2 linked regions of the Homo sapiens genome follow. The protein of the gene in region 2 purifies or fractionates together with the protein of the main gene of each other region. This does not show direct contact. Each region holds a gene or a part of one and is shown on either strand. Other genes may lie near its edges.

Region 1 (3,500 bases), on a different chromosome or scaffold from region 2:
AAAATCATCATGAACACCACTGCTAAGTAGGACTAGAATAGGAACACAATTCACATTAGAAAGTAATGGAGGAAATCACATAAGCTAAAATAAAATATCTCTTCAACTTAAATATTCTGTTTCCTAATAAAAAACTCAACTTAGGCAACAACTCCTTTTCATTAAAAGTCCATCTTTAAGTCATTCGCATAGTCTCAAGCATAACCTGCTTAATTACAAAGGGGAAAACATAACTCTAAAGCGGAGAGCTCTGAAGATCATCACATTAACAAGTGACCAAACTTAGCATCACCAACAGTGTGACAACATGACATAATGTGCCTTCTGATGGGATGCAATAAAAAATACATAACATCACTTCCACAGCACTCTTGCCAAATACGTTGAACCTGAATCTTACAATGAGTAATGAGGTAAATCCACAATGTGGGACATTCTACAAGACAACTAGCCTGGACACCTTTAAAAAGTCATGATCACGAAAACCAAAAGGTTGTGGATTAAAAGAGATTAAAGAGACCCAACAACGAAATGTAATGTGTGAAACTTGCAGGATCATCAATTTTAAAAAAAACAGCTATAAAGGGGGCATTTTGGGGGCAACTGGAAAAGCTTATACATAGACTGTATACTAAATGACATTACTGAATCAATGTTTTCAGGTGGGATTGTGGTTATGTAAGAAAATGTCATTATTCTTAGGAGATACATGCTTAAGTATTTAGAGATGAACACTCACATTGTCTGTAATTTTCAAATGGTTCATAAATATAGTTAAGTATACTTATAAAATATAGATACGCATTTCAGAATATAGAATATAGATGTCCCCGTATTTTTTAATACAAAATATAGATTCTGCACGTATATATAGGTGCTACGTATGTATACACATACACACAGAGAGAGAGAAAGAGAGAGCGCCAATGTGTCAAAATGTTAATTGGAGAATCTAGGTGAAGGATATATGGCATCTGAAATTTTTCAAAATAAAAAGTTGGAGGAAATCGGTAAGAAAGGAATACATACCATGGCAGTCCTAGACTTGATAAACCAGTCAAATCTAAACTGGGGAGCATTTCGTACACACTGTCTTAATTCTTCATATACATTTTCTCTATCAAAGCCCATTTTGTGTAACATACAAATCAAGAATCTATCTTCTTCCTCAGTATAGTTCTTTCCTTTGCTGGTTCCATACTGAATGCGCAACTGATGAAATGGAGCCTTGTATCTTGCAATCTGTGTATTTAAACAAAATAGTGCTTTTAATTGAATGTGCAGTAAGAAGTCAAAGCTGACCACTATTTCAATTAAAACGATCTAATAATAATTTGACATAAAACATAGTACTTTGGCATCCAGGGCTTTCTTGATACTGATCCTTCGTTGAATTCTTGCTTCTCCACGTTCAATTTGAGCCATAATTTTCTCAATGTCCTGTAATTCATTGCAACGTTCCCAAAATACAGCTGAAAAACAGAGTTATTTCTTTAAAATCCTATCATTTAAGCAAATAAATCCAAGGAATTGTAGAATAAGGAATTAATAGGAAAGAATACAATGAGCTTGTACTTCTTAAAATTAAGATTCAGATTAATCTTATATATATAATATGTTAAATTATTAAATACTACTAACTTTTCACTTAAAAATAAGACCTCAAAACAAGGTTTTAGGTTAGCAATTTTCCTTCATGAAATAGTACGGAGTCTTACGATCCATCCCAAATGACTAGGATTTCAAAAGATGATGCAGATACTGATTTAAGCTAGGCTTTTTACTCAAACATGATAGAAAAGGGACCAAACACATAAAGTGACACAGGAGAGAGTAATATATAAACAGTGAATATAGCTTCCTAGCATGCGAAAACAATTATGGGCCAGGCACAGTGGCTCACACTGTAATCCCAGCACTTTGGGAGGCTGAGGTGGGCAGATTGCCTGAGGTTGGGAGTTTGAGACCAGCCTGGCCAACATGGTGAAACCTCATCTCTACTAAAAATACAAAAATTAGCTGCACATGGTGGTGCGTGCCTGTAATCGCAGCTACTCGGGAAGCTGAGGCGGGAGAATTGCTTGAACCCGGAAAGTGGAGGTTGCAGTGAGCCGAGATCGCGCCACTGCACTCCAGCCTGGGCGATTAAGTGAGACTCCATCTCAAAAACAAACAAATAAACAAAAAACCCAAGCTATTATGAACAGGTTGTTCAAATTTTTTTCTATGGAGCAGCCATTTCTCTTGAAATTGTCATTTGCTTTTGGAATCACTCACTAATCATCTTACGGTATTTCCAATGACCAGTAGTGTGTTTTTAAACTTACTTGGAATACCCTTTTCTCATAAAAAAAAAAAAAAAAACCTCATTGGGATTTTAATTGCATACACACTGAAAAACATTCCAAGTCACTCAACCAAATTTTATAGATGAGCCAAATAATCTGGCTGTATTAATATGTCACATGACTTCAATGAAAGGCCTTTTAATGACATACTCCACATCCTCAAGCTTTTCATTTTTAGAGCCTATCAAGAAAGGTATGTGAGCACTCTGATTTTTATAAGCACCTGTGTTCATTTACTCATTCACTCACATATTCATTCAACAAATATTTAAACACTTGCTATGTACAGGATACTGTATATTCATGGGTGGTCAATTGTACACATTTCTTCTCTTACTGTAACCAACTACAACAAACTCATTGCAATCTCCTCACCCTGTGACATGGCCCCCAACCTGGCAGGCAGCAATTAAATAGTCCTGAGCTAGTCATGCCACCTGGCTTGGTGTCAAATTTGAAAGAAAGTCTGACAGGATCATCTTTTTAAATCACATTTTTTTCTTGCAACTTCACATACACCGATGTTATCTCCCTGCCTATCTTCTGAAAAAAATTCTTCTTAAAAATCTCTCTGCACATACCCTTTTACATTCTTTTCATTCAACTCTTGATGCTAAAATTTCTCTCTTCAATCTATTTTTTCCCCTAAGCCTCCAAATGCCCTAAATTTATGTGCTAAATGTTCAGAGTAATAGTAATATCATGCTGGTATGAAGGAAAAGGAAGTTCATATACTTAATGTTATATTATATGTAATAAAAACTCAATACAACTGACCTCTGAAGTCCCCCAGAAGACTCTTTTAGATTTCCAGAAGAAAAAAAAATCTCTCTAATTAAATCTGGATTTCTTCAAGCACTAGCATGCTAGATAAATTAAAAGCTGTTCCTAGCTATTATTAATCTTTAGTATATTTATTGGTACTGTAATGTTTCTTTCCTACTATTGCAAAAACAGAATTTCAGTGGTAGGGTTAAATAGATTTGGGGCAGGGGCTATCATAGAAACTTAAACCTACTTTGTAAACTTAAACCTACTTTGCCATTGTTTCAATGACAAAAAATGCTCTAGATTCTAAACATCTTGTTTCAAATGATAAGTTTAAGAGCTGAACCTATTTGGAAGTTAGAAAAGTCCCATGTACTACATATA
Region 2 (3,500 bases):
GAGCAGGGCATGCACCCTGAGACCAGATTCAAAGCCAGTTGTTTATTTTTGTTAACTCCTAGGTAATCCTAGGTAACAAAGAGTTATTGTGTGAATTTCATAAGCCCTCAGGTCCTGAGGGCTGGGTGGTTCAGGGGTTAAAAGCACCTCATCTGCTCCCTTCCCCCAAGCTGGGCCTAAGCCTGGGTTAGGTCACAGATTGCAGAAGGTTTAGGAGGTTGGGCTCACGGTTTCTAGTCCCTGCATGCTGGCTGGGTGGGGAGAGCTCTCCTGTTGCTGGGGGCATCTGGGGCCTGCATGGGGCTGTGGAAACGGAGCCACTTTTGGAGGGAAGGGATAGAAGGGAGTTGAGCAGTTCAGAGGAGGGTGGAGTTGAGAGGCCAAGGGCTGTTGCCAGGGAAACATAGTTCTCGGTCTTCAGCCTGGTCTTCCTGAGGGCTGGGAGTTTGATTTGACTGGTAGGAAAGTCTGAGCTTGATAGGGAACCCCTGTCCTCTCCCACCTTCCCACAAAGGGAGGGTACATAGTTTGCTGGTGCCCCTGCTGGCAGGACCAATTTAGGAGTGACCAGAACAAGGTATGTGGAAGTGGGTTGTGGGGGTCCAGAAAGCTCTAGAACAAACCTGATGCCCATTCCACTTGGCGGCATTAACCTGCTGCCCCTGGCTTCCAGAGCTCATAGCACTTCCCTGTGGCCACTCTGCTGTGTGCCAGTCACCCCTGCTCTTTAACTAGAGCCTCCTTTTGGCCTGGGTTAAGGCCTGGACTGGGACCTTCCTCTGGAAGCCGTTCGGGGTGTGTAATGTGGTTAGTCATTACCCTCAGTAATTAATCACCCCTGGTAGTAATGAAAACTCACATTCACATTCGACCTGATAGTTTACAGAGGGCTTTTATATACTTCTGTCATTTGAACTTCCCAACAATTCTTACAGGTACTGTTTTTATGCTCATTTTACAGATAGGAATTCCAAGACTCAGAGAAATCAAATGACTATCCCAGAGTTACAATCTAGTGGATAATAGAGCTAGGCCTCCAGTCTCAGACCTCCTTGTTCTTCTGAATCTTGAGGCTTAGATCACATGACTTTTTCACATTGGTGACATACTAGAAATGGGGGTCATTCCTTCCCATAAAGTAAAATGAAATAAAATAAAAGCCAGTAGGTGGGCTAATAGCTGATTTTAACCCTTTTGATGTCTCAAGTTCCTATGCTTAGGGGCCAGGTGTCAGTTTATTGCTCTAAATCAAAACAATCCCCGTAAATGCCCAATGAGGCTCTCAAATTGAGAAGTTGATTTTCATCAGAGTAAATGAAGAATATTATTATATTTTACACATCAATAAATCAATGTAGCCCTAATTTTGCCACACAGGAAATCAATTCCAGTCTTTCTAAATCATCAAAGATGTTATGAACAAAGTAATTTCACAAATTATGGCAAGTAACACATTTATTGATGACTGCAGTTTAGGAATTTAGAATCTGTGAGCACTGTAATATAATATGGTACACCGGCATGAGCTGAGTGAAATACAGATTATATGGTGAAATTGTAATGCATCATTTGCTATTAGTGGACTGGTAATAATTACCAGTTTCAAAGCAGCTCTCTCCATGTAATCTTTAGTCTCAATCGTAACAGCCCTTCTCATTGACATTATGATTACACTAGCTGCCCTCATGATCTAGAATATCTAGTTGATGGGAATACTAAAATGCGATAGTGAAAACTGTATGTTGTATGCTCATTATAAGATAAAATGCCATTTTCTCTGACCTGATGTATGAGAGAGAGGGGAGGATAACATCACAGTGTTAACATACTGTAGCATGATCACATAACTGGCTCTGAAAAAAAGTTTAGGATGCTCAGGGCAGCAAAATAAAATGGACTTTTCTCATTTAAGCCTTTTTGAAAGGATACAAATGAGATCCTTGATGTAGTGCTGTATGCCACAGATTTTGGCATTTATCAATGACTACAATTCATGGCACATGTGAAACCAGCACCACTAATTATGAGTCTAGTCCTGGATTTCAATCGATGTTTTATAAGGTAAAATATAATTTTAAGGCATTTGGAGTGATGAACGTGTTAAGGACTTGGATTATCAGACAAATCTTTTTACTTGCCCAACTCAGATCGTCAGGCTAAATAGGAATGATAGTCACCCAGAGATCTAGGGAGGACAAGGAGGAAGCCACAGAGGATCATGTAGTTGGAACCAGATAGTTTTTTTTCCAGCCTATTTGGGACCCAAGTTATTGTTCAACAACAACAAAAAATTTATAAAAATGTTCTCAATGAAGCTTTTTATTTCCCTTTGAAGAGAGGAGGCAAACAAAAATAGGCAGATAATGTGATACTAATGTCAGCGTTTTCTTTCAAAATCTTTCTGCCTTTTTTCCCCCTTCCACATTAGACAAATGTTTGAAACCTAATTTTGGTATCTTACCATCTAATCTTGTTTAAGAGATTTACCCAGGAGTGAGATATATTGAGTGGGATTATAAATGCGTTGTAAAGTAAATTACAAGGTCAGGGCAGGAGTCCATTATTTAGACAAGTGCTTGAGCGAGGCTGGCTTATTTTGGAATACCAGTGTTTGGGGGCTCCTGAGAAGACCCTGCCGGCTTTTCTTTCTGACTTGCTAAATGGAGGCATCATATAATTGATTAATTCCTCATTCTCACTCTTAACCTCCCTGGTAGATTTTTTTTTTTTTTCCTTCTTAGAAAGTTACTGACAAATACTAGCTGTGGCCTTAAAGAACTCTTGCAGCCCTTCTTTTAAAAGAAGGAGAAAAGTTTGTTATTTCTCAGTTATATTTTAAGGCTTTTTTTTTCAGAATCTCTGGGAAGTTTTGTTTTTCTCATCCTCGTCCTTTGGCTACCATTACTTCTGCCCTTTTTAATGTTGCAGTTGACTAGTAAACTGTTGGTCAGTTATTCCATATATATATATATTTAATGTAGCTATCTCCCCATATATATTTAATTTAGCCATCTCCCCAAATGAAATATTTTGTGAAGTCAAGCTGGCCCTTCTTTGCCAAAGTGGCATTTACCACTCTTGGGTTCTTTTCAGCAAGGGAAATAATGTGACTTAAGCAGGGCCCCTCTCCAGACGGCTTGGCTACTGGCCAGAGTTGACTAGCTGAACTGTATCTTTCTGTTTCTTTCTCAACTGGAGCTGAGTCCCAGCCGAGGGCGCAGGATGTTGTATAATTTGGTTCACGTTGTTAGCCTCTCAAAACAATGAGGAGGAGGATAGTGTAGCATTTCTCAGCCTGCTGCCTGTCATGGCGCTGGCTGTTTTAACTGTTCCTTAAACTAGGATGCTGTGTCTGCTTAAGTCGGCACCAGCCACTCCTCCTAACTTTTCCAGACTTGCATTTGTCTGACCGGGGGACAACTCCTAAAGATTGGATACAGCCTATCCGTTAAATCTGAATGAAGTTTTTCTTTCAGATTTTTTAAACATTCTTTGAGATA

Evidence for each region. The genes of interacting proteins can lie anywhere in the genome.
Region 1: the proteins of BCL11A (region 2) and SMARCA1 purify together in Homo sapiens (affinity purification with mass spectrometry, with the first as the bait; one large-scale study listed by BioGRID). This does not show direct contact.

The regions. Positions count from the first base shown.
Region 1 is NC_000023.11:129,464,491-129,467,990, forward strand, and holds part of SMARCA1 (SWI/SNF-related matrix-associated actin-dependent regulator of chromatin subfamily A member 1), read right to left. Parts: intron 1,473-3,500; coding exon 1,354-1,472; intron 1,243-1,353; coding exon 1,030-1,242; intron 1-1,029.
Region 2 is NC_000002.12:60,463,155-60,466,654, reverse strand, and holds part of BCL11A (BCL11 transcription factor A), read left to right. Parts: intron 1-3,500. UniProt on the Homo sapiens protein: Transcription factor. Associated with the BAF SWI/SNF chromatin remodeling complex. Binds to the 5'-TGACCA-3' sequence motif in regulatory regions of target genes, including a distal promoter of the HBG1 hemoglobin subunit gamma-1 gene.